Linked DNA regions of Homo sapiens. The protein of the gene in region 1 purifies or fractionates together with the protein of each later gene. This does not show direct contact. Each region holds a gene or a part of one and is shown in the gene's direction. Other genes may lie near its edges.

What was found.
Region 2: the proteins of ZBTB25 (region 1) and POC5 purify together in Homo sapiens (co-immunoprecipitation; one large-scale study listed by IntAct). This does not show direct contact.

Annotation. Positions count from the first base shown.
Region 1 is NC_000014.9:64,479,592-64,483,414, reverse strand, and holds part of ZBTB25 (zinc finger and BTB domain-containing protein 25), read left to right. Parts: 3' UTR 1-3,823. UniProt on the Homo sapiens protein: May be involved in transcriptional regulation.
Region 2 is NC_000005.10:75,703,642-75,707,464, reverse strand, and holds part of POC5 (centrosomal protein POC5), read left to right. Parts: intron 1-1,677; coding exon 1,678-1,761; intron 1,762-3,823. UniProt on the Homo sapiens protein: Essential for the assembly of the distal half of centrioles, required for centriole elongation. Acts as a negative regulator of centriole elongation.

The DNA of each region.
Region 1 (3,823 bases):
TCCCAGCTACTCGAGAGGCTGAGGCAGTGGAATAGCTTGAACCCGGGAGGCAGAGGTTGCAGTGAGCGGAGATCGCACCACTGCACTCCAGCCTGGGTGACAGAGCGAGACTCCATCTCAAAAAAAAAAAAGTTCTTCCAGCTAAAACCTTTATTTTTTGACTACATCTCCACAAAATGGAGCTATACTGTTAGCCAGTATCCTAATAGTATAGTGCAGTTTGCATAATGATTACCAAGCTTGAAACTGGAAATGTCATATGCACTTTCGTGTGTATCAGGCAGATACTAAACATTTTCCCCTTGAGTCAGCTTAAAATTTTTCCTTCTTTTGAAATCTCACGCAGTTGTTTTCTGGAGAAAAATAGAGACTGTTTTAGTATTTGTTCTTATTAGCGTATCATCAGAACTCAGCACAGTCTGCCTTATAAGAAAACAAAAAATTTTTTTATTTATAACTCTTGAGATTGTTACTTCTTGCTCTTTCTGATTTCCCATCCGTAAAGTGGGTGTAAGCAATACTTACCTCACAGGGGTGTTGTGAGGATTTATATTAAACGTGTTAAGTTCTCTCAGTATTATTGATTAAAATCAACCATATAAACGACATTTATTCTGTAGCTAGACCTATTAACTTTAGTATTTCAGCCTATAAATTCTAAAATGTTCTTAAAAGCAGTAATGTACTATCTAATATTCAATAACTAATTGACAGAACTCATTGTTATTTTTTACAAATAACTAGAAACAATACTGTTGCTAGAATTCCTGTTCTACTGTAATTTAATCATCACTGTTTCTTTTTAGCCTTCAGTAAGGAGGATACTAGTTCTTTGGCATTATTGGGAATAAAACTTTGTCAATTTCAGCTTTATTGAAAGTTCTCCCAAATATATTGTTTTTGTTTACACAAAGGAAAAGGAACAAAAACAATAAATAAATACCTTTGTTTTTTTTTCTTTTTTGAGACGGAGTCTCGCTCTGTTGCCCAGGCTGGAGTGCAGTGGTGCGATCTCGGCTCACTGCAACCTCCGCCTCCCAGGTTCAAGCGATTCTTCTTCCTCAGCCTCCCGAGTAGCTGGAACTATAGGCACGCACCACCACACCCAGCTAATTTTTGTATTTTTAGTAGAGATGGGGTTTCATCATGTTGGCAAGGCTGGTTTCGAACTCCTGACCTTGTGATCTGCCTATCTCAGCCTCCCAAAGTGCTGGGATTACAGGTATGGGCCACTGGGCCCAGCCTATTTTTATTTCTTTGATGTAGGTGATCTAAATAGTAGATGAGGACAGGAAATGGGGTGAAGGTAATAATAGTATTATTAGAAAAGTCTTCACTGAAAATTGAAGGAAATACATATTAATCGTGGAAAAAGATAGTGTGAAAAATGTGTAATTTCGTTAACATTTATTTGTACAGGCACATTCTTGATGTTGTGAGTCAGATACTTGATAAATGTCCATTTTTTGTAGTAATTGATGTAAAAATGGGCCATGTGAAGAATTTTCATAATGTAATTTGTGTCTTTGTATATTTTGAACTACATATAGATTTGTGGCACTTAAATTATTAATTTTTGATTTCTTAAGAGTGAAGTCTGTAAATGATTTCTCTCTGCTGTACTTCTGTGTTTGTATGGTTGGACATTTTGAAAACTGGTGAGATTGCACAGTCCCAAACCTGGATGTCTTAAATACAAGGAATTACAAACTGTGATTTTTGTCTTGAAGACCTGGAAGAATTCATTGTGCTTCAGTATGTATTTGTACTGCACTTGATTAATTAGTTAAGTATTGGTCTGGTGCAATTGACATTAACTGTCATCAACTCCTCTATTTTGTGCTAAATAAAGTCATTTAGTCAGAATGGATCAAATATAAACTTATACTTTAAAATAAACTTAGATTATAAAAACTTGTTCAATAAAAAAGACCCACTGAAAAATCTTCAAAGTACATGTAACACATAGCTAATACAGGAGACCAAAATCAATAATACATTGTGTGGCTAAACTCATCCACCTAATGTACTGTGAATTTGCTTCAGAAACATTCTTTTAGAAAGTTGTGTATCTGCCGGGCATGGTGCCTCATGCCTGTAATCCCAGCACTTTGGGAGGCCAAGGCCCAGGAGTCCGAGACCAGCCTGGGCAATATAGTGAGACCTCATCTCTGCCAAAAATTTTGGCCAGGGGCAGTGGCTCACGCCTGTAATCCCAGCACTTTGGGAGGTCGAGGTGGGCGGATCACCAGAGGTCAGGAGTTCAAGATCAGCCTGGCTAACATGGCGAAACCCTGTCTCTACTAAAAATACAAAAATAAGCCAGGTGTGGTGGTGCGCGTCTGTAGTCCCAGCTACTTGGGAGGCTGAGACAGAATCATTTGAACCCGGGAGATGGAGGTTGCAGTGAGCCGAGATTGCGCCATTGCACTCCAGCCTGGGCGACAGAGTGAGACTCCGTCTCAAAAAAAAAAAGGCAGGGTGTGGTGGCTCACACCTGTAATCCCAGCACTTTGGGAGGCCAAGGCGGGCGGATTATGAAGTTAGGAGATCGAGACCATCCTGGACAACATGGTGAAACCCTGTCTCTAGTAAAACACAAAAAATTAGCTGGGTGTGGTGGCACGTGCCTGCAGTCCCAGCTACTAGGGGGGCAGAGGCAGAGGAATTGCTTGAACCCGGGAGGCGGAGGTTGCAGTGAGCCGAGATTGCGCCACTGCACTCCAGCCTGGCGACAGAGCAAGAAACAATGAATTTCATATATTTTATCAAGACAAATTAATGTGACTTAATCAAAAACAAGTTTATTAGCTTAGCTTATAGAATGTGTTCTTATTTTACATCAGTGTTTGCCAAATGTTGTGTTCCTAGTGTTGAGGCAAGTAGTCTTTGTACTGGGTAACATTTTGGAGGTGTGATGCAAAAATGCATTTGTGGACCTAATTCTTACCGACCATAATCTGTGTTAATCGAAAATTGACGTCCTAATCAAATGCTTTCCAACTGCTGTCTCTGGAAAGAAAGGTAGTATTTCGTCATTTCCCAGAAGTTTCTTGCTTTGCTTCTTCTTTTTTTTTTTTTTTTTTTTTTTTGAGATGGAGTCTTGCTCTGTTGCCCAGGCTGGAGTACAGTGGAGTGATCTCGGCTCACTGCAACCTTCACATCCCAGGTTCAAGCTATTCTCCTGCCTCAGCCTCCCGAGTAGCTGAGATTACAGGTTCCCACCACTACACTCGGCTAATTTTTTGTATTTCTAGTAGAGACGGAGTTTCACCATGTTGGCCAGGCTGGTCTCGAACTCCTGACCTTGTGATTCACCTGCCTCAGCCTCCCAAAGTGCTGGGATTACAGGCGTGAGCCACCGCGCCCAGCTGCTTCTTTCTTCTCTATTTACAGTCTACTGTATCGCCTTTTGCCCCCAGTAACATGATCCACAATAGTAGTTCTCAACTGAGGTATATTAGTCAGGATTCTCCAGAAAAAGAAAGAAACAACAGGTAGAACTGAGAGAGAGAAAGAGATTGATTGATTATAAGGAATAGGTTCATGTAATTATGGAGGCTGAGAAGTCCCAAGATCTGCAGTTGGGAGGCTGAGAGGCTGGGGAGTCAGTGATGTTCCAATCTGAATTTGAAGACCTGAGAACCAGGAGAGCTTATGGCATAAGTTCCAGTCCAAAAGCTGGCAGGCTTGAAACTCAAGAAGAGCTGATGTTTCCATTTGGGTCCAAAGGGAAGAAAAGACCGATAATTGCAGCTCAAGCAGTCAGGCCAGAGAAAGTCTCTTTTTTTATTATATTCTGGCCTTCAACTGATGGAATGAG
Region 2 (3,823 bases), on another chromosome or scaffold:
TATGTTGTATCTCAGTACTTGTTCCAACAGTTTTATGCCAGGATTAACCTGAAAACTAAATGCCCAAGACTAAAATTAAAGATGGTAACCCTGAGAGTCTCTTAAATTACTTTACAAACCTCATGCTAGTGCTTTATCAGCAGTATTTATATGGGCATGGAGGACTGTTTGAATAATTATCACAAGGTGAACCCATCTGTGGACCATGTCAGCAACAGAACTGAAAGCTACTATAAACCAGGATGTGTGTTGATAGATGAGTGAAAAGTGGAGAAAAGAGGATAAAGCTCCTTTTACCTCCATTCCTTATTCAGGTGAAGACAACATCCCAAACTCTAAATAAATGTTCTTTCAAAGGGCACAGAAAGCCTTCCTAAAACAGTCCTGATAAGGACCAGTTATCACACTATAGGCGTAACTCCAAGGATCCCTGTCCTTGAAGGCGCATGACATAGCCTACTCAGAGGCCAAAGGCTCCTGGGCTTCTGCTAAGTCATAGCTCTAGTGTCTGTTGTCTCTCATTCTCTGTAGACGTGGATTTTTCACTGTTCCTCTGTCTTTGGCCTGTTGCAGTGGAACAACAAACAGGACCACAGGATGAGAGCCTTAAAATACAGGCCAGGCAGTGGCTCATGCTTGTAATGCCAGTACTTTCAGAGGCTGAGGCAGGAGGATTGCTTGAGCCCAGGAGGTTGAGACAAGCCTAGGCAACATAGCAAAACCCTAGCTCTACAAAAAAATTAGCCGGGCAGAGCAGCCTATAGTCCCAGCACCTTGGGAGGCTGGGGTGGGAGGATTGCATGAGCTCAGGAGTTCAAGGCTGCAGTGTGCCATGATTATGCCACTGCACTTCAGCCTAGGCAACAGAGCAAGACTCTGTTTAAAAAAAAAAAAAGAAAAAACTTTCGAGATGCTGTAGTCAACAGTTCAAGGTAATCATCTGGGATTTAAGACCATTGTTCTTTTCTCTTATGTAAGATAGCATTTATTTATTCTCTGCCATTTCCAAAAAGGATTTGAGATTAAAACATACGTTATATAGTAAGTTTAGATATCCTTTAGTCATCTTGATTCACAAGTAGACTTTGTTAAAGTCTTCTATGTAAATTCATCATCCCACATTCTCTTTATTCTTGGTATCTCAGTTGCTTGATAGAAGGCATGGTATGTGGAAATTGGCAAAGTATGTGTAAGCCTCTAACAGTCATTCTTGAGAGGTTTTTCCCAGTTTCCTTTTTGCCATCTGTTGACTACAGGTTCCTGAAGTGGAAGCAAATGTTTTGGGGGAGCCAGTGCCACTTGAGTTTGATTGTGGCTAGTGAAAAGCAGCGGGCCTCTGGAAATACCCAGTGTCATAAGAGAGCAGATCCTTTTCTAAGTTCTAATGTCATTCACCCACTTATTCTCTTAGTGTGAATTGAATGCTATAGTAGACTACATTATCTCTCATCTATATTTGGTGCATAAGTTGGAGCTTATCAATGATATAGTAAGTCTTTTTCTAGTCTCAGATTTTTATCTGTTCTTGTCCTTTGTTTTAGTGTTCCTATATCCCCAGCATGTTGTATTTTGTTTGTTCTAAAATATTATGTACTGCTACCTTCTTAAATTATGTGTGATTAGACATTTTATTTAAGAGTGGTTCAGTTTAATTTTAAAAAGCTTTCTTTTTGGCAGGAAATAACTCTGAAGTAAGAGAAACTGCAATAGAAGTTGGAAAAGGATGTGATTTCCATATTTCAAGTCATTCAAAGACAGATGGTATGATTTTTCTTTAGCTTATTTGTATTAATATACAACATTTTGTGGTTTGATGAATATTATCTATGTAGTAAGAGGAATAATTTCAGCATATTATTTATTAGCAGGATTTTAAAATGCTATTATTGCTAATTTAAGTGATAATATTTAAAATAATTTGATAAGATACCAAAATAGTACAATTAAGACAGGTCAATGCATTATAGTGTGTAGTATCCTTTCTTAAAATTGCTAAGTTAGAGGGCAAGTCTTTTAAAAGATTTAATGGGATATTAGATAGTTTGGCCAATTCAAGTTTTTATGTAAACCAATGCACTGTTTCCCAACTTTCAGGCATTTGCGTACCAGTGTAAGGATTTTCATCCTATCTTTATGCCACCTGTTACGCCATCATTTAGTGTTTTTCTTTAAAAGTCTGCTTTGTCTTTGTTAAAAGGGAAGATTAGCAAATCTTAAAGAGGCTTTTTGGGGGGATTGTTTTTTGTATTTTTTTAATTTTGTTTGGTTTTTGAGACAGGATCTCACTCTGTCACCCAGGCTAGAGTGCAGGGCTCCCTGCAGCCTCAACCTCCTTGGCTCAAGTGATCCTCCTGCCTCAGCGCCCCCTCCCCCAGTAGCTGGGACTACAGGCACATGCCACCACACCTAGCTAATTTTTAACTTTTCTGTAGAGGTGGGATCTCACTATGTTGCCCAGGCTGGTCTCAAACTCCTAAGATCAAGTGATCCACTTGCCCTGGCCTCCCAAAGTGCTGGGATTACAGGCATGAGCCACCATGCCTGGCTTTAAAGAACTTTTAAAAGCATACTAGAACTGGACTGAGACTTTTTTCTTGACTAGTCAGAATAATTAATTAAAATGTAATATTGTGGAATATTTTTCTATTTAATGTTATTTAATGTGGTAACCATTTTTGTCACCACGTAAGTAATGCCTCTAACCCTTAGTTTCCTCACTTGTAAGTAGAAGTCTTAGGCATCATAATCTCTGACAGCCCTTACAAGTTCTGAAGTTACATGATTTGATTTCTTAAAAGGTAAGTGTTGAGATATTTTTTAAATTGAAAAGCAGAGTCTATCGCTTTCTTTGTGAGTACAGATCTAGTTGGCAAAATCAAGTAAAAGAGAATATTCATGTACATTGTCATTCCACCTGTTCTTTGGGTTTCTTAACCATCCTCAGAACATGCAGATAGCATTTCATAGTATGACTAGCCCAGACCTTGTGTTATGTTTTTTATACCAAACACACATGTTAGGGAATTATTTTCCCTTTTGCAAAGAAGTCTTTACATAAGCAGAATATGTTTGCAAAAAAACTAAAATCTTACAAATTTTAAAAAAGAATTCTTGAAAGATTTAAGTAACAAGTTCTCTATCATAGATTCATCTTTCCTTCAGTAGGAAGAAAGCTCTTCCATCTTTGTTATTAGGATGCTCGTAGCAAATGTGAGATATGTGACAAGTGATGACAGATAGTCTCTAATTCCAGCATAAATATGTGAGAAAATATTAACTTTTCTTTCTCAGTGCTTTTTTTTTTTTTTTTTGAGACAGAGTCTCGCTCTATCACCCAGGCTAGAGTGGGTGGCACGATCTCGGCTCACTGAAACCTCTGCTTCCCGGGTTCAAGCAATTCTCCTGCCTCAGCCTCCCAAGTAGCTGGGACTATAGGCACGTGCCACCATGCCTGGCTAATTTTTTGTATTTTTAGTAGAGATAGGGTTTTACCATGTTGGCCAGGCTGGTCTTGAACTCCTGACCTCATGATTCGCCCACTTCAGCCTCCCAAAGTGCGGGGATTACAGGCATGAGCCACCGTGCCCAGCCTTTCAGTGCTTTTTTAGAAATAGATACCTGTTCTCTTTAGGGCCCTGACTCTCCCCCACCTCCCTGGATATGGGCAGGGGATGAGCGTTTTATATATATGCACATACATATAGAGATGTGTACATTTCTCACCTCTACATTGAAGCCTAACAGTGTACTTAACAACAGAGTATCTGCAAAACTAAATTATGAGTCTCTTTCTACTTAAATTGTTTAATTTTAATAGGTTTTT